4 separate regions of the Homo sapiens genome follow, and regions 1, 2 and 4 are each reported to be linked to region 3. Evidence: microRNA targets listed by miRTarBase, many of them from high-throughput screens and not tested one by one. Region 3 holds a microRNA gene; each other region holds the end of a gene's coding sequence.

What was found. The annotated mature microRNA hsa-miR-2276-5p reads GCCCUCUGUCACCUUGCAGACG and lies in region 3 at 3,763-3,784, opposite strand. An mRNA with a match to its seed (bases 2 to 7 or 8) in the 3' UTR can be bound and repressed. Matches are read on the target gene's strand: a 7mer-m8 pairs with bases 2 to 8, a 7mer-A1 pairs with bases 2 to 7 and ends in A, and an 8mer does both.
Region 1: miRTarBase lists GALNT10 as a target of hsa-miR-2276-5p. Seed matches in the 3' UTR shown: 7mer-A1 at 5,433-5,439 and 7mer-A1 at 2,507-2,513.
Region 2: the mRNA of CCDC171 is a reported target of hsa-miR-2276-5p. The part of its 3' UTR that is shown has no 7-base or 8-base seed match.
Region 4: the mRNA of IL2RA is a reported target of hsa-miR-2276-5p. Seed matches in the 3' UTR shown: 7mer-A1 at 5,349-5,355.

The regions. Positions count from the first base shown.
Region 1 is chr5:154,415,898-154,423,060 of GRCh38, reverse strand. GALNT10 (polypeptide N-acetylgalactosaminyltransferase 10) reads right to left here. Exons shown (of 12, transcript NM_198321.4): 11 at 7,129-7,163; 12 at 2,077-6,247. The coding sequence ends at 6,089. All of the region lies in intron 2 of SAP30L-AS1 (SAP30L and GALNT10 antisense RNA 1), which reads left to right. Among named protein-coding and RNA genes, the nearest start is that of SAP30L-AS1, 26 kb to the left of the region's middle.
Region 2 is chr9:15,970,740-15,977,739 of GRCh38, reverse strand. It overlaps CCDC171 (coiled-coil domain containing 171), which reads right to left. Exons shown (of 26, transcript NM_173550.4): 26 at 3,703-6,131. The coding sequence ends at 5,904. Among named protein-coding and RNA genes, the nearest start is that of LINC03041, 300 kb to the left of the region's middle.
Region 3 is chr13:24,159,052-24,166,214 of GRCh38, reverse strand. It overlaps MIR2276 (microRNA 2276), which reads right to left and starts at 3,799; the gene lies at 3,711-3,799. It overlaps SPATA13 (spermatogenesis associated 13), which reads right to left and starts at 5,495. Exons shown (of 13, transcript NM_001166271.3): 1 at 5,283-5,495. RefSeq lists a silencer at 5,545-5,604.
Region 4 is chr10:6,006,545-6,013,701 of GRCh38, forward strand. It overlaps IL2RA (interleukin 2 receptor subunit alpha), which reads right to left. Exons shown (of 8, transcript NM_000417.3): 8 at 4,145-6,352. The coding sequence ends at 6,328. Among named protein-coding and RNA genes, the nearest start is that of IL2RA-AS1, 25 kb to the right of the region's middle.

The sequences.
Region 1 (7,163 bases), not on the chromosome of region 3:
TACACATTGTGTGCCCATCAATAGATTTATGATTATTTAATTATGCAGTTTGCTTTTAAATCAGCTAGGAGAAAAAATAAGTTTTAAAAAAAACCCTATCTATACTGTCTTCTATATTTACCTATATAGTTATTTTGACCAGTGCTTTTTATTTCTTTATGTGAATTTGAATTACTGGGTTTACCCAATGGGAGGCAGTGAGTGGCAGATGACTGGAAGGTAGAAAAGGAGGAAGGACAGGATATGTATTCCTCCCATCTCCTCTTGTTTTGGCAGTAGCTGCAATTTACTACCTGCAGCTGCAGATCCCATTGGGAAGCCCCTGTTCCTGGCTACAGCCTTCTCTGCATTATAGTAACACTACTGCTTCTTGCCTTTTCAGGCTTACAAGTAGTAACAGCTTCCCATTTCTGCTAGTCCTTAGGTGCTTCACCATCCTTTGTTGTTTCCTTAATCCCACCCATACTTCTGCAATAGTTCCTTCATTAAATTCTCTTCTGTTACTCCAGGAGTGGGCTATATCATGACAAGATCTTAGCCGACTCAGCATGCTCCATGACCTTCTTGCTAAGGTCAAGTTCTTATACTCTCACGTGTACTTCTCCTTTGCAGAGCTTACCACAGTCCCTAACTATACATTTATTTTAATGATCATTTGTTTAATGTCTATTTTTCTAACTAGATCATAAGTGCCTTGCACAGTCTTTTAATTTCTAGCACAGTGCCTGGTATATAGTAGGCATTTGATGCATTTTTACTGAATGATAGCTAATATTTTTCTCTTATCTGTTTCATGGAATTCTTCTGAGAGTCTGGGGGGTACAACAGGTATAAAAGGCTTTAAAAATTGAATCTCTCCCCATGTCTACAAAGCTGTAAGGTGTTATTGTGTGAGGATAACATGAGCATGGGCATACTGAAAACCTGGATGGACTGTGTCAGTCACCACCATGTCATCTTGGGTCAGAATTTCCCCTTTGTGTTATTCAGCCTTTGTCAAGCCATGGTCCATAGCACCCTCTGGTGGTCCCTGAGTGACAGCATGAGGGGGCAGCTTCCAGCTTCTGTTCATTGTCACCCGTAGCCCCCAACCAAGACTCAATCATAGGACCACAGGTGGAGCTGGAAGCATCATCCAAAAACTTGTCATTTTACTGTGGAAAACAGGCCTAGTTGGAAGCAGCATTTGCACAAGATCTCACTGAGTTTTTTTGTAGAGCTGGGCCAGACAGTGCTCTTCCTACCATATCTAATACCTGATAGCATGAAAATGTTTTGGTAAGCAAGTACTCATGCCTGTTGGGTAAGCATCAGAAATGAGTTACAGCTGGGTGTGGTGGCTCATGCCTGTAATTTCAGCACTTTGGGAGGCTGAGGCAGGAGGACTGTTTGAGGCCAGGAGGTCAAGAACAATCTGGGTAACATAGCAAGACTCCATCTCTACAAAAAATAAAAAAAATTAGATGGGCATGGTGGTGTGTGTCTGTGGTACCAGCTACTAGGGAGGCTGAAGTGGGAGGATCACTTGAGCCCACAAGTTGAAGGCTGCAGTAAACTATGAGTGCCACTGCACTCCAGCCTGGGTGACAGAGGGAGACCCCATCAAAAAAAAAAGTTATGCTTATTTCATATTGTCACTGCCCTCCTGAGATCCTCCGCTCCTGGGTGTGACCCTTTGTGGGCTGCCCCACGTAACTCTTCAAGCTAACCTCCTTCTGCTCCTCCAACACAGAAACTTCTACTTACCTCAGGGCCTTTGCACTAGCTGTTCCCTCTGCCTGGAACTCTGTTCCGGGAAATCATCTTGGTTCACCCTCCTTCATGTCTTTCAGCTCTCACCATTCTAGCTAACGTTGACCCCCACTCCAGTCTCTAATATATCATTGCTTTATACCCTTCATAGCCCTATTTGCATCTGAAATCATCTTAGTTGTTTTAGGTCTGCCTTTCACTCTAGAATGATGGCTGTTGGGAGTTTTTAGTACCCAGCAGAATGCCTGAGTCCGAAGTAGGTGGTCTACGTGAAGAATGATGAAAAGAAGAATGACACATGAGAAGGAAGAAGGCAGAGACCACTTTAGAGAAAGTCTGGAGGTTTACTCAACAACGTTCACAATCACAATTGTACATGGTAAATCAGTCTTTCACAAAGGCTTATTTTTCCAGGCAGGAGGAGAGGCTGGTGGTCTTGAGCTTTTGGCCTGGAATTCCAGTCTGAATTTTCAAATATTCCCTGCCTCCAACCCCTTTGGGATCCTAGTCTTCAAGCCAATAACAGAGCAGGAGTCTGACCCTGTTCTGTTGCCTGGCACGGCTGAATCAAAGCCATTCTGGAAGCAGATGTTAAGGTGAACTTGTCACTTGGTATGTAGGTCCGACTCCCATCCCAGAGGTGGCAGTGGGCCTTGGCTCAAGATCAAGTTTGAACTAAAATATTACTTGGATTTTTCACAAAGAGTGTCCGTTGAAAGCAATAAGGAATTCCAGAACAGAACTGCACTTCTTGTCCCTCTCTCACACTTACAAAGCTTCAGAAAACATTAAAAATGCATTACCTCCTAGGAATTACAAAAGATCACCCAACTGTACAAACTAGATATCGCTGAAGCAGAGACTCTGATTCCTCAGTTACTACTGTAAAGTGCTTTGCCACTCTTTTTGAGACTCCAGAGACTAGGAAAATGGAGATGCACAGAGAGACATAAGGAGCTGTTTTCCAAGACATCACCTGTTTCTTAAGGAAAAAAAGAAATTCAACTGGTGGGAAGTTTGAAAAGTGAATGTCATGTAGACTTTGGAAATCCATTTGTTACATCTTTAACAGAAACTGCTCTTTCTCTCCTGGACCGAATGTCACATCCTCTCGTCCGATTCCTCCTGTGGATGTACCCCGTTCTGCCTGAGCATTTTTTCCTAAAGGGAAGAATCAATAGTTTCTGACTGTTTTAACAGCTGAAAGCTCCAACTGGAGGCAGAAGATGGGATGGCTTTTCACACACGTGCGTGCAAGTTTAGCCACCTCCAAAGGCCTTGTTCTTAAAGCAACAGTGCTGTTTGCATTATGAAATGTCTCTGGAGTTCCCCTTTGGAAAGGCTGCTGGTGGGCCACATGGTCACGATACTTTCAAGTCACACCCTACTTTGTGACCTTATCCTCAGAGTAAAGGCTTTAGAGGAAAAGGGACCCCACAGTCTCACCCATTACCTGGCTGTCAGCATCTCCATATGCTCCTGGCTGAGTTTTATTGAGCATCAGCTGGGGATGTGAGCAGAAACCTGAATCCTTGAGACAGGTGGTTTTCAAAAAGGAAGCCATAACAATGAGTGGCTTAGTACTGGCAATTGATCAGTTGGTCCATGAAATGGAGCCAGTCAAGTTCTGTCCTTCCTTCCCCTCCCACATACTTTGTCAAGTCCCAGGACCTACTGATATGGGCTCAGCAATGACAAATGCCAGAGTGCTCAGAGGACACACCCATCCCTTTTCAGGGTGTGAACCCAGACTGGAAAGGAGAACCAAAGGATGGGAAAGGCAGGCCCGGGACGGCTTGCTGCTGCTCCTGCTTTCACAGGAATCCTGGTCATGCCAGGAACACTGCCGCCCACTTGGGGTGGGACTATGTGGAAGTCTAGCTAGTGCTCGGCACCCCTTAACCCAATGGTGAGAAACAGGACAAACATGCTGGGGGTTCAGAGGGTGGACCGCAGGGATGGCCCCCAAACAGGTCCCAGTGAGGTAATGCAAGGCCTCCTCTCGGGGGCTGATGAGGTCTTCTAGGCCACAGACTAAACGCACTGCCCAGCCTTTAGTTTGGAGTGTGACTTGCACTGACTGAAATAAATCTGACCTGTCACCCTTGGGGGACATCTCAGTCTCAGATCTTGCTCCAGACCCAACATCTCCTGCTTGAAATGAGACATTAAGAAACACACACTCATCCAGTAGGAACTGCACACACCACCAAAAACGTTCCCCTCCCCACAACCCTGCCCCTTTATGTTTGTCTAGCAAGGCACTAGGAAATGGTTCAAGTTTAGGGATTTGCTCTATATTTGCATTTTTCTTTTTAAAAGGCACAGTTTTTATTTTAACGACGCTGCATTGCTCTTTGATGATGAATCTCAATTCGACTCCTCAAACTGTCAACACTCTTGTTATCCTAGATTCTAGAAGGGGCCTCATCTTTTGACTTCTTTCTATAGAGGGCCACTTCTAAAGCTACAGCACTCATTTGGAAAAGGACACTGGGATCAACACGTAAGCGTTGCAAGCACAGGGGCCGCCTCTCTTGCAGACAGGTGGCCAAAGCAGGGCTTGTGCTGGGCCAGAAGTGGAAGTAATTCCTCGCCAGCTACACATTCAGTCTGACTGGTGGATGATTGGGAGTGTTTGTCCCTCCCTCCCCCAATAATTGATGGCCTTGAGATCTGCCAGCATCTCAAAGGCAGATTCGTGGCTCTGTTCCCAGACTTAGGTCTCAGTTATTTAATTGGTAAATGACACAATCAAGAGACTCAACACTAATTGGAATGCTGATTTCAAGTATTTCCTGGGCTAGCTGGTGGAAGCCATAGATTGTGGAATGTGATTTCCATTTCTGAATCAGTGGGTGGCAGGTTGGTTACAGAAATGCTTCCTATTAGTCTGGAGGCCCTCTAGGAGTCTGACATGTAATTAACAAAGCAAAAGGTAAACATGAAGGGCTGGCATGGAGCTGGGTGTATATCTGGCTGTGGGACGTCGGGTTCTTTTCTCCACTGCAAATGAGACTACAGTTGTGATGATGGTGGGAGGTTCCAGGGGTGCAGGTCTTCACCAAGGACCATGTTGTACCACAGCCTCTGCTGAGCTGAGGGACACATGTCCCCCTGCTTTCCCAACACCACCAACTTTGGATTTCACAGATTGTCTCTAGGCTGGGGGCTGCCTTGACTGTATTACACCTGGCTGGCTCCTTTAATCACAGCATTCTAGAAATCCATATTGGATGTGGAATACCAGAATCCTATGTAGCATCCTAGTTTGCAATCCAATTATAGAGTTCTTTAAAAATTCTGGAGTTCTGTATGAGAACTAGAACCATGATGAGGTCAGAGGCAGGCACTTTGCCCACAGTTGATCCTGGAGGCCTCCAGACTCTGTGAGGTGAGCACCTCGCAGCACCTCTGTTCCTCTTTTGAGGCCAGTAATTGCCTGGGGAAGAGAGACAGGGAAATGGAAGCATGGATCAGGGCAAATCAGCCAGCATTTCTAGTTTGGAGGTCTACCTGGCCTTTTCCGTGGGCTCAGGGCCATCTGAAACACTGCCCTGTAAAGCTGGTGCTGGGCTGTCCTTGTGCCTGGAGAGTGCTAAAATTGACATTTCAAATACCCAGAGAGCAGGGGGAGATATCCCGCATGTCCATAGCTGCAAAGAAATGTCTAGGGGGGCTCCCTCTTCTGACTCCTCACCTGGCAGCTGATCAGCATTCAATACTGAACACTCTTAGGGCCCCAAGTATGGCCTTTGACCGGACCAAATCACCTGGGGTTGTGACAGAGAACAGAAGCTGTGCAGTAACTGCAATGTTCCCCCCAGGACGGCAGAAACTAAAAAGCCCCAAGAGGACTTCTTTCTCTTCTGCTGCAGATGAGTGGCATCGATACTAAAAGCTGCCCCAAACAGGCAAATTTTACCTTTGTTTCTAAAGCACCATCATGTAGGAGAGCCATCTGAGGGCTGGGCAACCTCGCAGGACTCACTTTTGGGTGGCCTAGGCTACCTTGGTGTTCTCCCACATAATGTTCAAGGGGACATAGTGACAAAGTTGAAAAGGCTCTGTTGCTTTTCCGTGATGTCAGCAGGGATTAAAGCAGTCTCTGCTCCCTGTGGGGCCTCTTGTGGGATATGCTCTTCACCCTACCCCCACAACTCAGGGGCTCAAGGACCAGGCAGACCCCAGCCCCTGAATCAAGAGCCCTCTTCACCCTGAACCATTTGGCCAGCACCTTTTACACCTAGTGCCCACAGGGGCCCTGCCTCCCTTGAAAGAGGAAGTCTGCAGTGAGTGCCAGACCCTGGGGGGCCTGCCAAGGGGACATGAGGGCTCAGTTCCTATTGAATTTTTCCAAGACTGTTGAGTTGGTGTGTTCAAACAGCCACTGCTGGGTGAGAGAGGATGGGTTGCAGGTGTTCATGAAGATCCTATGGTCACTTTCACTGCAGTCCATGCAGCTGCCACTGACAGGGTGGTACAGGGTCTTGTCCTACAAAACATGGAGGTAATAAGCCAGACAGCACTGGAGACATGTGGCCAGTCAAACCACAGCAACAATACCAGCAATGAGAAAGTGAGGAAGTGACTGACTGACTAGCTGTTCATACACCTGTTGGTTTTCCTCCTGAGCTCACAAGCCGGATGCTGCCCAGCCTCCCTTGCAGCTGGTATTGCCGTGGGACTGGGTTCTGCCCGCTGGGATGTGGCCAGAAGTGATGCACGCAGCTTCCAGGCCTGGGACCTAGACACTGCCCACCTCCTGTCAGACCTCACTGGTCCTTATCGTGTGTGTGTGTGTGTGTGTGTGTGTGTGTGTGTGTGTATGTGCTTTCCTTTTATCTTTTATTTTTTTAATTTTTTTAATTTTTTTGAGACAGGTTCTCACTCTGTCACCCAGGCTGGAGTGTAGTGGCACAATCTTGGCTCACTGCAACCTCTGCCTCTCAGGTTCAAGTGCTTCTCCTGCCTCGGCCTCCCGAGTAGCTGGGAGTACAGGCATGAGCCACCATGTCTGGCTGATTTTTGTATAGAGACGGGGTTTCACCATGTTGGCCAGGCTAGTCTCGAACTCCTGACCTCAGGTGATCCACCCACCTCAGCCTCCCAAAGTGCTGGGATTACAGGCATGAGCCACTGTGCCCGGCTGCACTTTTCTTTTTAAATGGAATCAGTTGCCAACATTTAAGACTTGAGGATTTCACAGTGAAGTCTAGATTTCTGACTACTCTTGAATGACTACAAAATCCGGCATGGTAGGTTTGTGGCACAAATGAATAAGTGGATGGGCTCTGTTGAAAGAAGGGGTGAAGCACTGTATTGCCTTAAAAAAAAATTAAGCAGGTGCCCTGCTCCCCCCGCATCCCATCTTACTTTGCGGTATTTCCACAGCTGGTTGCCCTTCATGC
Region 2 (7,000 bases), not on the chromosome of region 3:
AAGCCTTCCTATTTTACGTAGTTTCCTATAGCCGCACAACATTTCTGGAGCCGCTTCACTGGGAGGACTCTGTCAACAATCAGCATTTCACTGGCATTAACATGCAATAAAAGACAATGAACCATGACTCAATTAAACCACAAAAAAACTGTCTTCAGATAACATTAACCCAGTAGTTTTCAAAGCTTTATATGTTGTAGGGCTTCTGTTGCCTAACATTAAGGTCAGCGCTTTAAAAACATATGCCTAAGCATCAAACACACCTACACAGAATATGATTTAGAGGAAGGAGCAAAACTCTGTTTTGATTTATCTCCTTCCCATACTATATCCAGAGATTTTAAACTTAAGAATATGTGGTATCAATTAGGTATCACTACTGCAAAGAGTAAGAACACATTTTCCCATCGCAACGTCCATGGAAATGTAATTTGCCCACAAGATACAGTTAGGGAGACCTTTAGATTCTGATTTGTTTAAAACAATAACTAAAAAAGATTATGCAGGGGGAGGTTCAGAAAAAATATGTACGCATCCATAATATGAACTAACAGGACATCTGATATCTGGATATGTCAATCAACACATTCTACAGCCAGAAAAGTGTCTCGTAATAAAATTGCTAAGGTATAAGAAAAAAGATGGAGCTCTTCTAATATGTAAATTTACACATTTATGTCTCACTTAACCAGGAGGACTGGAGGAATGGAGGGGTTTCTTACAGAACCAGAGGCTTTATTTTTCTTTTCTTTGCTTGGCTGTACTTGCAATATTTAACGCTCTAGGTTTAAATCTTCAATATTTTAGGTTTGATCACATTTAACACTTAGTCATTTCAATTAAAATTGCTCTCCTTTCTCTCACTAAATTAAACCATCAGGAAAAATTATATGCTTTCACCAAAGTAAAGACAAAATGGATTCACATAGTACATTGTAAAAATTTTAGAAGATTTCCTTGTTGAATAAAATTATTAAAATTATCTCACTTCAATTATAACAAAAGGCAGGGAGAAATGACCAGGAAATGCTCTGGCATTTTCTTTTAAATATATTTAAATATATAATTTAATTTAAAGTATATAATTCATAAATTCCCTATCATTATTTTAAGCTGTGATTAATATAAATTCATTCAAGATTCAATTTCTTTTGTAAGAAAGCTATTAAAATATGCCAACCAAAATGGAATAAAATAAAAACAATCATTTAAAGTAGATCTTTAAGATATTTAAGGCATCTTTTTAAAACTGTAGGAATTAAAATATACATTGAAATCACAGGTTAATTGAAGAATTATCAAAAGTTATGGCAATAGAGTGTGACTCTATGCTGGCCCAATATAATCACTGTTTATTATATTTAGAAGCCATGAATATAAAATGGAAACCGAAAAGAATTTGAAAATTCAAGTTATGAAGGCAATTATTACGGATAATTTAAAAGAAAGAACATTTTCTCTGTTTGCTAATATTAAAAGATTAACATATTAATCTTTTAAAAAAATTACTAAACGTTTACTGGTGTATTAGTTTCCTTCGGTGGCTGTGACATATTGCCACAAATTACCACAAACTTGTGGCTTAAAGCAGCACAAATGTATTCTCTTACAATCCTGGAGGCTCTGAGAGGAGAATCCATTTCCTTGCCTCTTTCTGCTTCTAGCACCGCCCTGAAAGCCTTAAGTCTGGACTCTGCCTCCATCTTCACAGCACATCACTTCAACTTCGGCTTCCATCATCGTATCACCTTTTCCTCTCCATAGTCAAACTAACCCCTGCACCTCCCTCTCTTACAAAGATACCTCCTATTGCATTTAGAGCACACCCAGCTAATCCAGGATAATCTCCTGATCTCAAGATCCTTAACTTAATCACCCCTGCAAAGTCCCTTTGCCGTAGACGGTAACATTCACAGGTTTCAGTGATTAGTATTATGAACATCTCGTACGGCCATTATTCAGCCTACTACACTAGTCCAGAAAATATATTTTTAAATCTTTATCCTAGGAGTTACACAAGTGAATGCTTTATTGATCAGCTTTATTTGGCATATGTCATTATTTTCCATTGGGAAGTAATAGCATGGTCAAGCTGACTCACCATCAGTACCTCTCAACAGAGACTCTGCTTCTGAGAGTATCTGTGTGGTCTTTTGGCCAAGCTAGAGACACTGGGCAACACAGTGAGGGTGGTGTTTCCTTTGAAAGATAGACACCAACTTCACAGTTACTGTTTACATAAATAGTGCTAGTATGTATGTATTTTGTTTTGTCTAATCAATTCATAAGAAATCTAGATTTCAAACCAAAACATACTTATCAAAATTATTCCTAGCTGGTCAGGACAATTAAAAAAAATTTTTTTTTCTCTTTAAAAAGTGTTAATTATTTCTGGAAGGCAGGACTAGCAGTGTTTCAAAATAATGTGGACTTTGGAATTGCAGCTCTAGGCTTACTAATTCCTAGGTTATGTATGATCTTTGGTAGCCAAAAGCTTAACATTTTTGATCCTCAGTTATTCATGTCTAAAATGGTGATGGAAACTCCTATGCTAGAGGTTTGTTGTGAGATCATTAGTTTTGCTATAATAACTGGCATAAAACAGTTGCTTGATAAATATTAATTATCTTCCACCTTTTATATTAGAAAACTTGTCTATAAAAAGTGCACAGTGAGGGCACAGTGGTACGCATCTGTAGTCCCTGGTACTCAGGAGGCTGAGGTGGGAGGATCACTTGAGCCCAGGAGTTCAAGACCGGCCTGGGCAACGTTGTGAGAGCCCATCTCTTAAAAAAAGAATAAGTGCACAGTGAAATAGGATCAACTTCCTATTGTTCAGTATGGTCTACAGAATGAATTCAGACAACTGGTAAATGAAGTAATATGAAAATACTAATAATCTCATTAAACATTCAATAATAGCATATGTCATAAATATGAAATAGGAAATAGAGTTGCTAAGTTTAATAAGAGTCAGATATTTGGTAAATTAAAGTGATCATTCTATTTAAAAGGTTATTTATTTATGTCATTAAGTTATCACTGAACTGGCAATTTTTGCAATCCTAAACCTCTTTGTTTTTATATTATGTCATTCCAAAATACATGTATTAAAAATGTCAGCAACTCCACAATATGTAAGTGTGACTCAGGTATCAGAACAATAACTTTAAGAATTAATAGTGATAGGTGATATAGGTGTGTTTCTAGATCACAGAAAGTTAGCAGGAAAATCCACATTCGGAAGTGTAAAGTAAAACTTCCTTTCCTCTACAAAAATATTTGAAGTCATTATCCTGAGATATGTCTACTCTATACATCATTCTTAAAAAGATAAAGAAGCTGATACAGCAACTGTCCTTGCCGACACAACAGAGATCTCAAATATGCAGCAATTGGTCACTAAGGTGCTTAGAAGCAGTCTAGAGTTTCTCAGATCTCCATAGGATATGTCATTAAATCTTCTCCTCCTGCTGGGTCTGACTTCTGGGAAAAAAGCATATGGTATAAATATTACTATATTTGGTAGTGAATACTAATGATCGCTCAGGAGGTTCATCCTTCAGTTTCTATGGCCTTTAGCATCTAGTTGCTTATAAATGTGACATGCTTTGATTTGATTTAATCATAATTTACGAATTTTGAATTTGTGGTTCAGAATTCACTGTACAAAATGTACCTGTAAAGTTAGATACCCATATATATGGAGACACATACACATTTATTTTTGGAGTTATCCCATTAACAGATTATAAAATCAAGGCAAGAAGACCAAGGCCTTTCCAAGGCACATTTTACAAAGCTGCTTGTTCCTCTAAAATCAGTAGGATCTGAAAACAGATTCAACACAAGCATACACACACACAAACACTTAGACATAGAGGTTACATATAGTAACCTTGTTCTTCTCTAGTGAGAATTGTAAGCTCAGTGATATCACATGAACTAAAAAATTGTCTATCAATTTCTGTATGAACAATATCCTAATCATTGTTTGGAACAGCAGAGAAAGGTGTTCTGAAATGTGCAGAAATTATATGATCTGTATAAAAACAATAAATAGCACTTCCATGTTATAATAAATTTGCAAGTTGAATTTCATACAGGTCATGTTACACAGGTCATATTAAAAATAATTCCAAGGAAAGAATTAAGAGAAATTTGGTTAAAGATATAATTTTACTCCATATAAGCTTTCTAAAGTTTTATATAAAGCTAATTATAGTGGTTCAGTATTACAAGAATAGGATGTGTTACACAGTACGACAGTAATACTGCTGTGTTCCCTCAGATGGCATAAATCACTTGGCTAATTTGGCTACTAATAAATAGTTAGTATAAAATCTTATTTACCAAGGCCAATAAAAAAATTCTCAGCAGTTGGGTAATTTGAATCAAATGTCACTGTAAAGATAAGACAAAAAAACTTCTGTAATACATACTGTTATACTCTAATGTATCCATAATGAAAGATTCCATAATGAAAAATAATATAAAAAATAGATTATGTATCAAGACTCTTTGTCAAAAGCTATAGTTCACATCAGAAGTTAATAGCACTAGGGAGTTAAATGATTAATACAAAAACAAATTCTTACTACAAATATTCTTTTGTTCTTCACTTACCATGATGCAAACTGCAAGGATTTAACCTTTAAGGGTTAAAGAGTTTAATCAATGTCAATGTCTGATCTTCTGAAGGCGATAAAGAACAGTCTGTCTAGCGATACCCAACAGAACATCACTTTGTCAAGCCACAAAGCACCCAAAAGCTTGTCAAGTAAGTTACCAGAAACCTCTTTGTGGTTAGAACTCAGCTCCTTCCTGCTTGACCTATTATTTGATATTTGACCACTTGGTTGCAAGACACTTGCTCTTTCTAGCTGAAATGTCACTGGGGCATCTTGTCAGCTCCCCGACATCTCGGCCTGACATACAATTTTACTTTTGTGTGCTACAAGGCAGAAAATGCAGGGCAATGGCCTTGTTTTAAATTCTGTCAGCATCAAAGATGGGTGTCACTCTTGGGTCCTACCAACAACAAAAACAAAAAAGGAGTCTATTTTGAAGGTCAAAACAGCCATTACCTTGAAGTTTTTCAGCTTATACTAAATATATTACCTGCTATCCTAGTGTGGGAACTGTCCTTATGAAGTGCCTAAACATACCACAGAAATCCTCCAGCACAATTGCTCTACTTTCTTATCAAATGCAGACTTGCTAAAAGAATGAGTTTTCAGTGCCTTCAGGGACCAGATTCAGCAGTTAACTTAACTTGTTCAAATGGGCAAGTGGTATCATGTAGCTTTACAAGGAGCAACCTGACCTTCTCACATTGACCAGGAGTGACATTATTGTGCAGGAGGAGAAGCAGTCACATCATTTCTGTTTTGCACAACCTGCTTAAAGTTTGCAACTAAATGCTTGTCTTCAGTTGAGCTGACAAGAGAGAAGAGGGGGCTCAGTGAACCATGGCCGGGCTGCCATGAAATGACAGGAATCATTGGCATACATTTCAAATAGCTCTCTCAATCCTATTAAAGCATTGCAGTCCTGCTTTAAAATAGACAAGTATGAAACAACTTTGATAGATAGAGACTAAAATGGCTTATTGATTTTTTTAAGTCTGAGGGAAATTACCCAAAATGTGTCATTCCTTAACATTTAAAAATATGTTACATAAAAATGAGCAACTGTGATAACAAATAAAACTTGGAGAGAAAAAAGTTGGCTATTTCCTTATTCAAGGAGACAGAGCTACCAGAATACATCAAGATAGCGCACAAATTTTTTAAATCCACTGCCACTTCTGCTGAAACAAAAGTCAACTGATAAGAAAATTCCCATTCAAAACAATTTTAATTGTACTGTTAACTCTTCCTCCATTTTTTAATTTCATGAAGTCATAATCCAATCTGAGTTGGTCTGTTGGCATTAGCAGACATAGTCACTGGAGAGGAGTGAGATGATGTCAGAGCATGGGGCACAGTATTTATAAATGTCTCCTTTAAGAAAGTGTAAGTAGTATCAAGTTCAGCTTTCAATGGTAAGAAATCCCCAATACCAGTTGTGTCAGCAGGAAGAGGAGCTCTTGAAGGAATGGAGAGATTTGAATGGTCTCGTGATCCTATCTGTGACATACAAAAGAAAAAAATAATAAACATAGAGTTGAAAACTCTCAAATAGAGCCTAAAACCATAAACAGGCAAGTAGACTAATAATCATTATAATATAAAAATGAGATGGAAACTACTATTTCAATAATCTACATGAGAATATATAAATAGTAAATTATTTATCAAGTGTGACTGAATCCCTTATTTACTCTTTTCTGAACTTTTCTAGACAACAAGAATTTGTCTAAACACTAAATCTTTGTGTAAAACTTTTTATAAAGTTATTATATCAGAGAGTCAATACAATCAGGGATTTTTACCTTGACTTCAGTCCATTGGCAATTTACAGAAACCGATGCTAATAGCATTTATTTCATTATGCTATAAAATAAGTGCCATATAATATGGAAGATTAGATTACTTAGAAAATAAACTATGAGTATTTATGTTTTTTAAATCTATCCATTTTACTTATTTGACAAAAGTAGCACAAAGTAAAATAAGCCAATCCCAGTGACCTCTAGAAAATGGCATACTAAGATACAAAATTCTAATGAGAACTCTTTGGCTTTACTTTAATAATAATGCCACCACCCTGTTTTTTCTTTCAACTTTATTATTTTAGGTTCAGGGGTACACGTGCAGATTTGTTACATGGGTAATTCTTGATTTAAGTCACTGAGGTACGGTGTACAAATGATCCCATCAGCCAGGTGGTGAGCACAGTCCCCGACTGGTAGTTCTTCAACCCTCTCCCACTCTCATAGTCCCTGGTGCTCAGTCTCTATTGTTTCCATCTTTATGTCCATGATACCACCCTGTTTTGATAAAGACTATTATAAGTATTTAGAAATCACATGTCAAAATAAGGGAATGAAAATAAT
Region 3 (7,163 bases):
AATCTCTCCATCTTCAGCATCTAGTACACAAAAGATACACAGTAAGTATTACATATACATTTATGCTTACAAACCAGCATGAAGTATCATCGGTATTACACTTGTGATAGCAGAATCTGCAAATCCACATAAATCCCTAAATAGGCCATTCCTGATGAATGAGAAAGACTTTTATACGTTACAGAAGAGCACTCCACCCCCCAGGAAGGGTGGAAGTGGAGCACATTTCTGAACCAGAGGCTATTTTTCTTTTAGCTATAGAGTCACAACACACAACCCGGATGTGTTTAAAAGTACATGTGCAAGTTGTTTAGGACTCAGGGCACATTTACCAATCTCTACATCACCCATGGTGACTAAGAGCTAGGGCCTGACCTAAGAATCCTGTGTAATGAGACTGAATTGTCGCATTAACACTCAAGTACAATGGACTGTTCCTATCACACAGAGCAACATTTTCTGCAAAAGATGTGATCAACGTTCTGATCAGCAATACCACAACACATCTCATTGCCAGCCTCCTGCCCCCATTGGAATAAGACAATAAAAGCCTGCCCTCCCCGTGCATCTGTCCCAGACAGTGAGTAAAGATGTCCCCTTTCCTGCTGCTAAAGTTGGAGTTGGGGTGGGTGGGGGGTGCAACCGGGAAGGGCTGAGAGAGGAGAAGAGGGCAGGAGACTGGGTGGCCCAGGAACCCAGGAAGGCAGCTTGCCTCCCTCCATTGAAACTCTCCAGTCTGGCCATTTCGGACCTGTGCTCTACTTCTCTCTAAGGAGAGCTTGCCAGTGTTAAGAAACAAAGCCTGCTCTGGTATGAATGGGGGTGGAGGGGAAAGGCTGGCCCTTCCCCTCTCCTGGATTGGACAGGTAGAGTCCTCTTGGAGGGTGCAGATGGATGCTGGTGGGTCTTCAGGGCAGACCTGGCATGCTGGGGTGGGAGACAGTCTGAGGCAGGCACAGAATCCCTCAAGTGACAATGTCTGCGCTCTCGTGATTCCACAAAGACTAGGGCAGTCCCGCTTCAGGGAAATGGGTGGAAGTGATTGCTCACCAAGAAGTCAGGTCCTTTAAGGTCCTGGTTCACTGAAGCAACAGCCCCATTTCCGAGATGCTGGAACATGATGACCACAGGACAGCCATTACCTGTGTCCACCGAAGCTGACATCCTGACCACAGCACATGGCCACAACCACATACATATACAGGAAACACAGACGCCATTCTCCTTGCATTCTGCGGTGTTGCCACAGCTCCCCAGGGTTCTTGCAGGCACAGAGGGCATCGTCCACAACCCCGAAGTTAGCGCGACGGCTGGACTGGGAACTCCTCTGAGCCCTCAGGCTCTTGTCCCCTGGTCCCCTGGTCTCTCCTCTCCAGCTTCACCTTCAGCTCAGCACACAGGAGCTATCGATGTTGTGAAAGGTTCTGTGGTGCCGTTTCTGCCTCAGGGAGTTACAGGTTAGAGGGAAGACAGACACACCGAGGGATGCAGGTGGATCTCCTAAGCCAGGCAGCCCGGGGTCCAGTCTCAGTCTTGCCACTTACTATGGGGCTCTGGCCACGACAGCTTCCCTGAACCTCCATCTCATTTAGGGAGCAATGAAACTTGACTTGCTCCTCAGTTATAACCATCCTCACCTAAACCACAGAACACAGAGGATACCTCACGCAAATGCTTCCTCCCTTCTCCCCAGGATGGTACCTGATCACCCATCTCATCCTAGGAGGGAGTGATGAAGCCATCACATAGGATGCCTGCCTCAGGGCATCAGGGTTTCATTCTGTCAAGACAGGCTGGTATGGAGGAGGTGAGCATCACAATTCAACAATACCCTGCAGGTTCCCTGGGGAGCCAAAAGAGGCATTAAACATGGAGGGAGCAGAGGCAGGAGCAAGGGGGCTCAGTGGGAGTCCAGAGAAGGATGTGGGTACAGCAGAGGCCAACAGAAAAACAGCAACCTACTCTATGCTCCCCCTTTACTGCTCTTTCATTTGTGATGCAAAGATGAGGAAAATCAGGTAAGCACTTTGTACCAATGCATTTCTCTCCACAAATGTAAAATACAATTAAACATTCCAGGTACTGATTTTCAAATTGCCATGTATTATATAGTTTCCCTCAAGAAAACCATGTACATTTGGTGTTCATTCCTGGTGTTTTAGAAATAACAATGATAGTTCTTTCTAAAACATTTGAATTTATACCACTGTGATGTTATGATCCCATTTATGCTATTACATGTCTCATAGGCAAACATTTCTTAAATGTTTAGTTTTCAGACAAAAAAGAAAGGAAAGCACTGATGAGTTCCCCTTCTAAGTGAAACCTTCCAATGCCTCTTAGCTCAAGGGAAAGGAAGGGGAAAGAAACTTTGTTGCTTCCAGCAGCAAACAGAGAGGTCAACCTACCAAGCTATAGGGCCAGGCATTGAGCCCTGAACCAGAGAAGCCTTAGAGCCAACTTTGTCCTGCTGCTTTCCCTTGAATATGCCATTTTATTTCCCTGGACCACGGTTTCCTCATCTGTAGAATATAAAGTCCCTTTCAGCTATCAAGGTGCATGCTCTGCTTCAGTATCTGTAAAGTAGAAATACTACTTGCCTCCAACTCTTAGGAAGATAAAGACTAAAAAAGAAATGTTTGGACAAGGCTTTAAGATTACATAATGAAATGGATATAAATAAGACTCATACAGTCACACAGCTAACAGAGACCATAAAGATCTGTCCAGCTAAAGTGAAACGGAACTCTCAATGCACGGGAGGAGACAGCTGGCAGTAGTCTTCTTTTTTAATTTAACTTAATTTTTTTAGAGACAGAGTCTCTCGTTCTGTCACCCAGGCTGCAGTGTAGTGGCAAAATCATAGCTCACTGCAGTCTCAACCTCCCAGGCTCAAGAGATCCTCTCACCTCAGCCTCCTGAGCACCTTGGACTACAGGTGAGTGCGCCATCACAACCAGCTGATTTCTTATTTTTATTTTTTAGAGATGGGGTCTTGCTATGCTGCCTAAGCTGGTCTTGAACTCCTGGGCTCAAGCAATCCTCCTACCTCGGCCTCCCAAAGTGCTGGGATTACAGGCATGAGCCACTGTGCCCAGCCAGGTCATTTTTATGCCACTTTCTTCAGGGCTTCCTGTGGCTAAGAGGGAAAGTAGACTGATAGCATGGATGAGGTGACAGCCCAGGCACTGGCCCCAGGCTTTCTGAGGGACAGCCGGCATTAGGTTTTTCTCCATGCACTGTCCTACAGGTATAGAATTCATGTCCTCCACTGGTGTACATTGCAGACTAAATAAAACATGTCATATAACAACCTCCTTTCCAAAGCTAAACTCCAGGCATGCCTGAGTTCAAGAGGTCACCCAGCAGGGAAGCTCCACTGTCTGGTGAGAAGAGGGCCTCCACTGCTAGGCAGTGGCAAGAAGCCATGCCGGTTACCTCCTCTGAGCCTTCCTTTTCTCATCTGTCAAATGGGGACAGTAGTAGATCCTACATTATAGGGATGTGTGGAGGATTTTAAATGAGTACTGATGCACGTTAAGCCCTCAGAACAGTGCTTGGCACACACCCAGAGTTTGGTAGATGCTACCTAACATCAATATTGACATTAATTCTAGAACTATGTAGAGGATACGACTTCAATAAGAAAACAATCAGTCAGAAGCAGTGGCAGAAGGGAGGGTCCTGAAATCCAGAGTCCTCCTGCAGAGATGCAGCTGCCACTCCTCGCCTCTGACACTTGCAGACATTCGGAGAGAAAGCCGTCTGCAAGGTGACAGAGGGCGGACTGGAAGAACACAAGGAACCCAGGGATGCTGATGGAGCATGGAAAACCGCAGCAGAAGGCACTGAGGCAAGGTGTGCCCTCCAGGCGGGGCAGGCTGTGGCTGGGCAGAGCGCCTGCCAGGGAGAAGTAGGGCAAAGGGAAGAAAGCACCTGTGGGAGAAACATGGGGAAACAAGGAAGAAACCTGCATATGCACGGGAGCACAAATAAGGAAGGAGATGGGAGAACTGGGTGGAGGCAGATGGCAAACGTGGGGGCCAAGGGAGGTAGATGAGAATTAGGATATGGGATAATAAGACAAAGCCACATGAAACTCTAAAGTGCGGGAGGAGGGCAGAGAACAGGGAGGGTGCATGACAGGCACCCCGAGAATAATGCAGTGAGGAAGTTTGCAAGACGGGGGAGGGGGACATTAGGAAAAAAGGAGAATTTGTTGGGAAAGGTGGAAAAAGAAAAGGAGTGAGATTTCTCCGCCTGTTAGCAAGGGGAATAAAGGAGAGCAAATCGCTGGGTGACCAGGAAAGGTTCACAGAGAAGAAAACACGAGGCAGCAAAAACCGAAGGTGGGGACAGAGAAAATGCTGGCAGGGGGAGGTGCATAATATAAGGCTATGGGAAGCCATGGGAACAAGAGCTGAATAAATTCACAGTATTATTCTATTTATCCACATCCCTATGCAATGCTGGGAAGCAAATGACCCACAGGGTTTTGTTTGCTTGCTTTGGTTTGGTTTTCCTGCACTTGGAGGGAGGGGAAATTTGCTCAAGCTCTGTAACCTTGCAGTCAGATGGGTGGCCCAGCCCAAGTCACCCGAGCTCCCCCTGACGCTGGCAGCAGCGCGGGCTTCTACCTGCCTGGGGCTGGAGTACCAATTCCCCCACCTCCTGCACAGAATGGGACCAAACCAACTCCGCCAATGCATTCCCTGCAGTCCACAGACGATGGGCACCGGGTCCCAAAATCTTTCCCCTGGGACGAGACTCCGCTGGTACCAAGAGAAACTTGCTTTCTAAACTAAGCTCTCCAACCGCATCGCTCCGGGTCCCCGGAGGCACCAGCCACGCCACCCGATGGAGCAGAGCGTTACAGGGCTCCGCCGCGCCAGGCTCCCCAGACTCTGCCACCCCCACGGCCGCCCCTGTAGGCCAGGCCCCGCGAGCTGGGAGCGCGGGTGAAGTTACAAGGCGACCTCCCTGCAGGCTTCCGGCTGGAAACGGCCTTTTGCGAGAACACCACGTGCATGTCCTCCCAAAAGCGATGGTGCCGGGTGGCCCAGAGGGCGCAGAGCCACCGCCGGGCAGGGAGCGGGCGCACGGACCTAACAGGTGAGCACCCGGTAGCCTCCACCGGCGGGGGAAGCAGAGGCCAAGCAGCTGGGAGCTGGACATCCCGAAGCCCCGAGGCAGTCCACTGGGACTCAAATCCTCCCGATATTCTACCTAACAGCCCATGCCCGCGCCCGCCCGGCAGAGCCGCGCGCCCGAAGCCGTCTTACCTCCTGCGGCGCCTCTTGGCGGAGCCTACAAAGTCAGCGTGTCCAACACGTCCCTGCCCTCAGAGCCACCTCCGGTGCCGGCGGAGCCCCGAGGTCGCCGCACTCTCGGAGGAGCCTGGGATCCAGTGCGCGCCCTCGGAGCTAGCGACCGGCAGGGCGATCGCGGGAGAAAGCGCAACGCACACTCTCCTCCCGCGCCGCGGCAGCACACTCAGCCAAGCCACGCCCCAGCCCCGCTCCCCACCAGGCCACGCCCCCAGCCCGGCTCTTCCCCCCGCCCCATATCAGGCCACGCCCCCGGTTAGCTCACTCCCTCAGGCCACACCCTCGGCCACGCCCCCACACTACCAACCACAGCCGGGGACCCCACCCATCAAAAACAGTTCCCCGGCCAGGCGCAGTGGCTCTTGCCTGTAATCCTAGCACTTTTGGAGGCCGAGGTGGGCGGATCACCTGAGGTCAGGAATTTGAGAGCAGCTTGGCCAACATGGTGAAACCCCGTCTCTAATAAAAATAAAAATTAACCGGGCGTGGTGACAGGCGCCTGTGATCCCAGCTACTCAGGAGGCTAAGGCAGGAGAATCACTTGAACCCGAGAGGCGGAGGTTGCAGTGTGCCGAGATCGCGCCACTGCACTCCAACCTGGAGGACACAGCCAGACTCCGTTTTTTAAAAAAAGAAACAAACAAAAATAGTTCCCTCAGCCACCAGCCAGCCCCCACCCCCCAGGGCGGGAAGAGGAGTCTCATCTCCGGGGCAACCGTGCCCCACTGCCCACTGCCTGGGCCAGAAGTTCACTCCCTGTGAAAGGAAAACGCAGGGTAGGGATTTTTAAACCTACATGTTTCCCAGGGCCTGGGGCAAGTCTTGAGTAGACTGTTGCAGTAAACCGACTCAAAGGCCTATCACCTTTCTTGTGAGGCTCAAGGCCTAATCATTAATTGACATGAAAACCACAGAAGAGAAGCAAACCCTTCTGTGCTGGGATCTGTGCCCCAGTGCTCCATGTTCCCTGATAGGCAGCTAATGGAATTCATAAAATAAATGCATGCTTTCTACCAGTGTAGTTTTTTAGATGATTCATTTAGTGGCCAGCACTATTATTTATAAATGTCTATTGTCTTTTATAATCAAAGAACAATACCCACAATCTGTAAAATAAAAAACAAAAATTATATTACCCAATGAAAAGTGAAAATTAATTTTATGTATGTTTTTTAAAATATTGAAAAAACTCTGTATGACATTATAATGGTGGCTTCATGTCATTATGCATTTCTCAAAACTCACAGAATGAACAGCATGCGGCGTGAGCCTCCTGTAAGTAATGGACTTAGTTCATCTTAATGTAACAACATGGGCCCATCAATCATAACACATGTGCCACTCGAATGTAAGATGTCAGTACAAGCAGCTGTGTGTGGAGGGAGGGGCGTGAGGGAGTACATCAGAACTCCGTGTACTTTCCATTCCTGTTTTCTAAACCTAAAACTGCTCTAAAAATAGTCTATTAATTAAAGCACACTCCAAGATTAATGATAATTATCTGTGGGTGGTGGAAATATGGGCAAATTTTATTTAATTCTTTGAATTGTTATTGAAATTACCCCAAGTTTTAACAATGACCATGTATTTTTAAAGCTGAAAAAATATAAAAACCAAACCTTGGAAAATTTTAGAAACATAGTATGTGAGGCTAATATCATTGACTGTTCCATTTTATTTCTACTCTATAAAAAATCTGCACAAAGCACTCACAAATGCTAAAATGAAATCTATGTTAGTATTATTTAAAAAAAAATATCACGGTCTAAATTGAGGGTTTTTTTATTATCTCTTTAGAATTAGCACAAATCTGAGGAGCAGATTTTGATTTTTCTT
Region 4 (7,157 bases), not on the chromosome of region 3:
ATATAACAGGCCAAGAAGGAAATAAAATTATTTTACCCCAAAATATTTTTTGACATATTTTGAAGTGGCCCTGCAAAGCTGTCTCTTAATTTTCATACTGGAGGAATCTCCCTTCTCTTAATGGGTCTTTTCCAGAGAGTCTGACGTCTGTTAAGTTCCAATAAGATATATGTGCTCTCTATTCTCTCTGAAGCCTGCTATCTGGAAGCTTCGTGTACATGACAAGGACAGTGTCTTCCACAACCCCACTCCCCTTATCTTAACTCAAGCATTTCTTTTTACTGACTTCAACTCCTCAGGCAAAGCTTAACTCTTTCAACCAATTGCCAATCGGAAAACTTTTGAATCAACTATGACCTGGAAGCCTCCCACTTTGACATGTCCCACCTCTCTAGGCTGAACCAATGTATACCTTACATGTATTGCTTTATGTCTTCGCCTATAATTTCTGTCTCCTTAAAATGCATTAATATCAAACCCAGCTGTAACTCAACCACCTTGGTCACATGTTCTCAGGAACTCCTGATGCTGTATCACAGGTCATGGTCTTTAATCTTGGCAATATAAACCTCTGAATGGATTTAGACCTGTCTCAGATACTTTTTGGTTTACATCTCATCCAAATTTAGTCACATGACCACACTTAGCTGCAAGGGAGGCTAGAAAGTGTTGTCTTTAGCTAGGGGCAGAAATGTGTTGGGTTAAAATTTGGGGATTTTATTACTGATGGTGGAAGGGAAGAATGGATCTACAGGACCATAGAAATCTCTGTCATAATGGCTTATTTGTGTAGTTGTTTTAAATTCCCAGTCTGATAATTCCAACATGGTAGTATCCGAGTCTGGTTACAATGCTTGCTTTGCCTCTTTAATCTGTGTTTTTTTGCCATTTAGCATGCCTTGTAATTTTTTGTTGAAAGCTGGACCTGATATACAGCATAAAAGGAACCAAGGTAAATAGGCCTTTAGTGTGAGCCTTTATGTTTACCTGGTTAGGAGTTAGGCTGTGTTTGCTATTTGCTGTAGCTGTAGATGTCAGAGGCTAAAATTCCCTCTAGTGTCTTTGTTTTTGTCTCCCCTCTCATCTTTGGGCTTCCCTAGAGACTGCTTCTTAAAGAGGGACTGAAATGTGCAGTTGTTTCCACTGTAGTCCCCTGTGAGCGCACAACAGCCCCACTGATGTGGTGGTAAGGTGCAGGGGGAGGGGAACCATTCCATAGTCTTATGATTAGGTTCAGCCTTCAGCAAGCCTGTACCCCTGGGCTGTGACCTTCACAAGTGCTTTTCATTCGCCTCCTCCCTTAGATGAGACAAGAAGGGCAGAGAGGCTAGAGCTGGTTATTTCCCTTCTTTCAGGTTGGTTAGACACTGGTAAAATTTAGGTTGGTTAGACTATGGTAAAATTTAAGATAGTGAGGAAAATACTGTTTCTTGAGGGCAGGCCTTGTTGGACAAGTACTGAATGCTCTGGCATATTTCAGAATGGTACCTGTCAGGCCTCTGAGCCCAAGTTAAGCCATCATATCCCCTGTGACCTGCACGTATACATCCAGATGGCCTGAAGCAACTGAAGATCCACAAAAGAAGTGAAAATAGCCTTAACTGATGACATTCCACCATTGTGATTTGTTCCTGCCCCACCCTAACTGATACGATATGTTCTCCCCTGACCTTAAGAAGGTACTTTGTAATATTCTCCCCACCCTTGTGAATGTACTTTGTATGCCTATCCCAAATCTATAAGAACTAATGATAATCCCACCACCCTTTGCTGAATCCTTTTTCGGACTCAGCCCGCCCGCACCTAGGTGAAATAAACAGCCTTGTTGCTCACACAAAGCCTGTTGGTGGACTCTCTTCACACGGATGCGTGTGACAGTACCTTTTCTCTTTCCCCCGTCAAAAGCACAAGGAAGTTTTTCTCCCATCTTCACTGTGAAGACCTCATTGAGTTCCTGGAGGGAAAGGTCATGAAAGTGGGGACCCCCTGTGACTGGGTTGCTCCCCTGAAATTTTTATCTCTCAGAAGTGTCCACACTGAGCCTCCAGCAATTTGTCAGTTCCAGTTTAGGTTTTCCTGCCCCTCTGCTGGTTCCAGTAGCAGGGTTTGTTCCTGGGTTTCTGGTCCAGGAGGTTATGATTTCCCTGTATCAGCCTGTCTGCCTCTCCAATATTGGGGACAGTGAGCTACCCTGTAATCTTACTTACTTCTACAGACCTAAGAAGAGTTATTGACTTTCAGTTTGTTCAGATTTTCAACCCACAGCAAATTAATTGATTATGCACGTTGGGAGCCAGCCAACACAACCCCTCCATGAAAATCACTGGCAGGAATTCATCATTTAGCTGAAGGAATACCAGCGAGTAAAAACTGAAACCAACTCACGATAGTTCTGGTGATGCATCAGGAACAGCAGCCTTCCTGGGAGCTATGCAAATTTTACGTTCTCGATAGAATACCAAAGTGGAGTCTTCCATAAACTTTAGTAATATGCTAATTTTGGTTTTTGAAAACAAAAATTCAGGGTCCCCTGATAACTCACTTAGTAGAATACTAAAGTCACCATAAAGACTTCAGGAGGATCCTTCTGGGCTGATGACCCTTCTTTGAGCATCAAGAATAAGATAAGCAATATTTAAATATTTTGGCCTCAGGATCTCCTTTTTAAAAAGTTGAGGCGAAATTCACATAACACACAATTAACCATGATAAAGTATACAATCCAGTGGCTGTTCGTGTATTCAACATGTTGTGCAACTACCTCCTCCCTCTAGTTTCAAAACTTTTTTACCACCCCAGAAAAATCCCCTGGCAAACACTTATCTGCTTTCTGTCTCCATGGAATTGCCTATTCTAGATATTTCATGTTAAATGAGTCATACAGTAGTGATCTTTTGTGTCTGGCTTCCTTCACTCAGCATAATGTTTTTGAGGTTCATCTAAATGGCAGCATGGATCAATACTTCATCCCTTCCTGTGGCTAATACTCCACTGGCAGGGATATGCCATGATTTGCTTATCAATTCTTTTTTTTTTTTTTTTTTGGAGAGAAGAGTCCCTCTGTCGCCCAGGCTGGAGTGCAGTGGCACCATCTTGGCTCACTGCAACCTCTGCCTCCCAGGTTCAAGGGATTCTCGTGCCTCAGCCTCCCACGCAGCTGGGATTATAGATGCGCGCCACTATGACCAGCTAATTTTTTGTATTTTTAGTAGAGACAGTGGAGATGAGGTTTCACCATGTTGGCCAGGCTGGTCTCCAACTCCTGGCCTCAAATGATCTGCCCACCTTGGCATCCCAAAGTGCTGGGATTACAGGCATGAGCCACCATGCCCGGCCTTTATCCATCCCTTTGTTGTTGGGTATTTGGGTGTTTCTACCTCTTGGTGAGTATGAATAATGCTGTTATAAAGAGTCGTGTACAAGTTTGTATTTAGACACGTTTTTGTCTTTCTTGGGTGTGTACCTAGGAATACAATTGCTGGGTTATAGGACAAATTTATGTTTAGCTTTTTGAGGAACTGCCAAAACAGACTCTGTTTTGCACAGTGGCTGCACATTTTGACATTCCTACCAGCCATCTGTGAGCATTCCTATTCTTTTTCTTAAAGTCATCTTAATGGGTATGAAGTAGTATCTCATTGTGGTTTTGATTCGCATTTCTGAAATGACCAGTGATGTTGATGTGCTTGTTGGCCATTTCACAGGATCTTTGCATGTTATTTAAAACTATTAAAAACTATAGAGGATACCAGGCTGGGTGCCGTGGCTCACGCCTGTAATCCCACCACTTTGGGAGGCTGAGTTGGGTGGATCACTTGAGGTGAGGAGTTCGAGACCAGCCTGGCCAACATGGTGAAACCCCGTCTCTGCTAAAAATACAAAAATTAGCTGGACTTGGTGGTGGGTGCCTGTAGTCCCAGCTACTTGGGAGGCTGAGGCAAGAGAATCACTTGAACCCAGCAGGCAGAAGCTGCAGTGAGCCGAGATTGTGCACTGCACTCCAGCCTGGGCAACGGAGCAACACTCCATCTCAAAAAAAAAAAAAACAAAAAAACAAAAAAAAAGCACCAAAAAACTATAAAGGTTTTTGGTTATGTAGATTATAGCTAGCAATATTTATCATATTTATAATAAAAACCAAGACTTTTTAAAAAATATCATTTATTCTTTTATAAACAATAGCAATAAATTTATTATATGTTAACAGCAGAGTGATGACATCATCACGTATCACATAGCTTCTGGAAAATTCCACCATACACTTTTGAGAGAAGGACAGATAAATGGTCGATAACATCTTAGTATTATCATGGAAAAGTTTTGATCTTATAGACCCCTCAACACCCAAAAGTCGTAATCAGTTCTACTCAAGTAAGATTTAAATATATATCTATATTTTCTGGTCTGAGATTCTTTTCAACTTTACTCAGAAAACATATACCTGAAGGGGGAGGGGGAGAGTGCACAGATGAGTCTGTTTGTATGTGGTTGGTCACAGAAATGACAGAAAATAGTTATTTAATCTGAATCTGGACCCTGCTGAAAACTGCCGTGATTTCTCATAACACTCTCCTGCCCCTTCAGAAGTGAAAACTGGCTGATAGTTTCCCAAATGAATAATTTTCGTTAATGTTAATCGTGTGATGTTGTTGAGCTAGAATGTTGACTCAACTGATTCGTGAGGGGAGATCTTGCACCAGATATGGAACCAGGACTTCCACCGAAATCTTAGCTCTGGAAGTTGATTTTTTTCGTGGGAGTTGAGAGTGGGTGGGCGTGCAGAGCAATAACACAATGGTTCTCAAAGTGTGTTCCTGGAATAGTAGCAGCAGCAACAGCACCTGGGAATTGTTAGACACACAAAACATTTGGCTCTATTCCAGACCAACAACTCAGAGACTCTGAAGATGGGCCCAGCGAACTCTTTTAACAAGGCCTCCCGGTGATTCTAATATGCTGAACTTTTTGATAATGTTCAAGGACTGCTGGTATGCTCATCTTGTCTTTTTTTCCTTAAAGACAGGATCTTGCTCTGTTGCCCAGGCTGGAGTGCAGTGGTGCCATCATGACTGACTGCAGCCTCGAACTCCTGGGCTCAAGCAATCCTCCTGCCTCAGCCTCCTGAGTGGCTAGGACTACAGGCGTATGCCACCACATCCAGCCAATTTCTAATTTTTTGTAGGGATGTGTCTTGCTATGCTGCCCAGGCTGGTCTCAAACTCCTGGCCTCAAGAGATGCTCCCGCCTTGGTCTCCTAGGGAGCTGGGGTTATAGGCCTGAGCCACCGTGCCAGGCCTGATGCGCTCTTTTCCGTGGTTACGTTCTACCAGTGTGACCTCCATCCCTTCTCCCTCTTCACTTCCTTCTTTCTTTCCTTCCTTGCATAAACATTGAATGTACGGATCCCTTTTTGGTGTTTTTAGACACTTCTCAGGAAACGTACGCATTGATTTGCACCTTGTGTGTCCACCTGTAAACATCAAATTAGTGCAGGCCAAATTCAGGGTATCATTCATAGCAATCCCAAAGAAACTAACTCTTAAAGAGGCCAATTAGTAACGCACAGGTAAAACTTTGCTAAGTATGATTCTCTGCCTGGGACCTCATTCATCCTTCTGTTCCTGACATTGCCTCATGGGTTTGGCTGCCCCGTTTTGAAGTTACCCAAAGATTATTCTGCCATGGCCTCTGTTTTTTAGAAATTCAAGACTGAAGGCTCAGTAGAAGGGGGTTAGCTTAGAGGATTGAGCCAAGGGTAAAATGATTTCTGGGTAGCAGCCCAGAGTTCTTGAAGGATGTTTATTAGGCAACGTGAACGGGAGAATCAGCAGTCAGAAGCGGCTGAGAAAGGAACCACGCAGACAATGTCCAGTTGTATAGGGTAGAGTGTGTGTGTTGTGTATTTACGTTAGTGCTGGGGCTTTCCTTGGGACTCCTGAACTGGGAAGTTGGAATGAGATGAATGTAAACCTACTTTTCTTTATACTACATATAGGGTGGAGAGAGTTCCATACCATTCATGCTTTAATGAACACATATACATGAAAATAAGATGGAGAGTTCTAGTGGTTTTGCCCTTCCTCTTCAACGGCGAAATTGCTATTTAGAAGTGGGTAGCGCTCGCTCTCTGATGGGACTGAGCTGGCATAGAGACAAGGTTGCCACTGCCCCGTGTCCTGTGATGTGACTTCAGAGCTTCCAAAACGCAGGCAAGCACAACGGATGTCTCCTGGGCGACCATTTAGCACCTTTGATTTCACTTGGGCTTCATGACTTCTGTTGTCTGTTCCCGGCTTCTTACCAAGAAATTCTTGTTCTTTTGGTTTTCTAGATTGTTCTTCTACTCTTCCTCCTGTAGTGGTGTAACAAAGTCACGGTCATATGTGTAACACGGCACCAAAAAAATGTGGTCCTCACTCTAAACCAGTGCACACGCCACCATGCCTGGCTAATTTTTGTATTTTTAGTAGAGATGGGGTTTTGCTATGTTGGCCAGGCTGGTCTCGAACTCCTGACCTTGTGATCTGCCTGCCTCGGCCTTCCAAAGTGCTGGGATTACAGGTGTGAGCCACTGTGCCTGGCCTAAGTTTTTATATGGCAGACAATAGCTGTGGAACAGGAATAATAAACAGCAACTAACTGTGCTAAATGATGTGCATGCAGTAAAGCACTTGGTTTCTAGCCAGCACTGTGCTATAGAACTTTCTGAGATGATGGAAATCTTTTGCAGTTGTGCTGTCCGATAACACAGACACCTGTGGCTAGGGAACGCTTGAAATGTGGCTAGTGCAACCGAGGAACTGAATTTTTAATTGTATTTAATTTATTTGAGTTTAAATACACTTAAGTATCCACAGGTGGCTAGTGGCTACTGTATTGGACAATACGGTCTTAGCCTTTTCCCAGTTCTTATTTGGCTCATGGGAATTTCTAATTACTCCCTACTTTGCACAGAGTTCCCATAGCACAAGACTCCAAGCAGAGGTGTGCTGGTGATGTTTAACAAGCAGCTCTCTGATGACGGTTGCCTGTCTTCCCTGGTGTCAATCCTCCCTCCACACACAGCTTCCAGCTGGCAATGTGACATCACTGATCACGCGGTTGGGAAGAGATGCGCGGTAGCCACCGTCAAACGGTATTTCCACCATGCGGACACA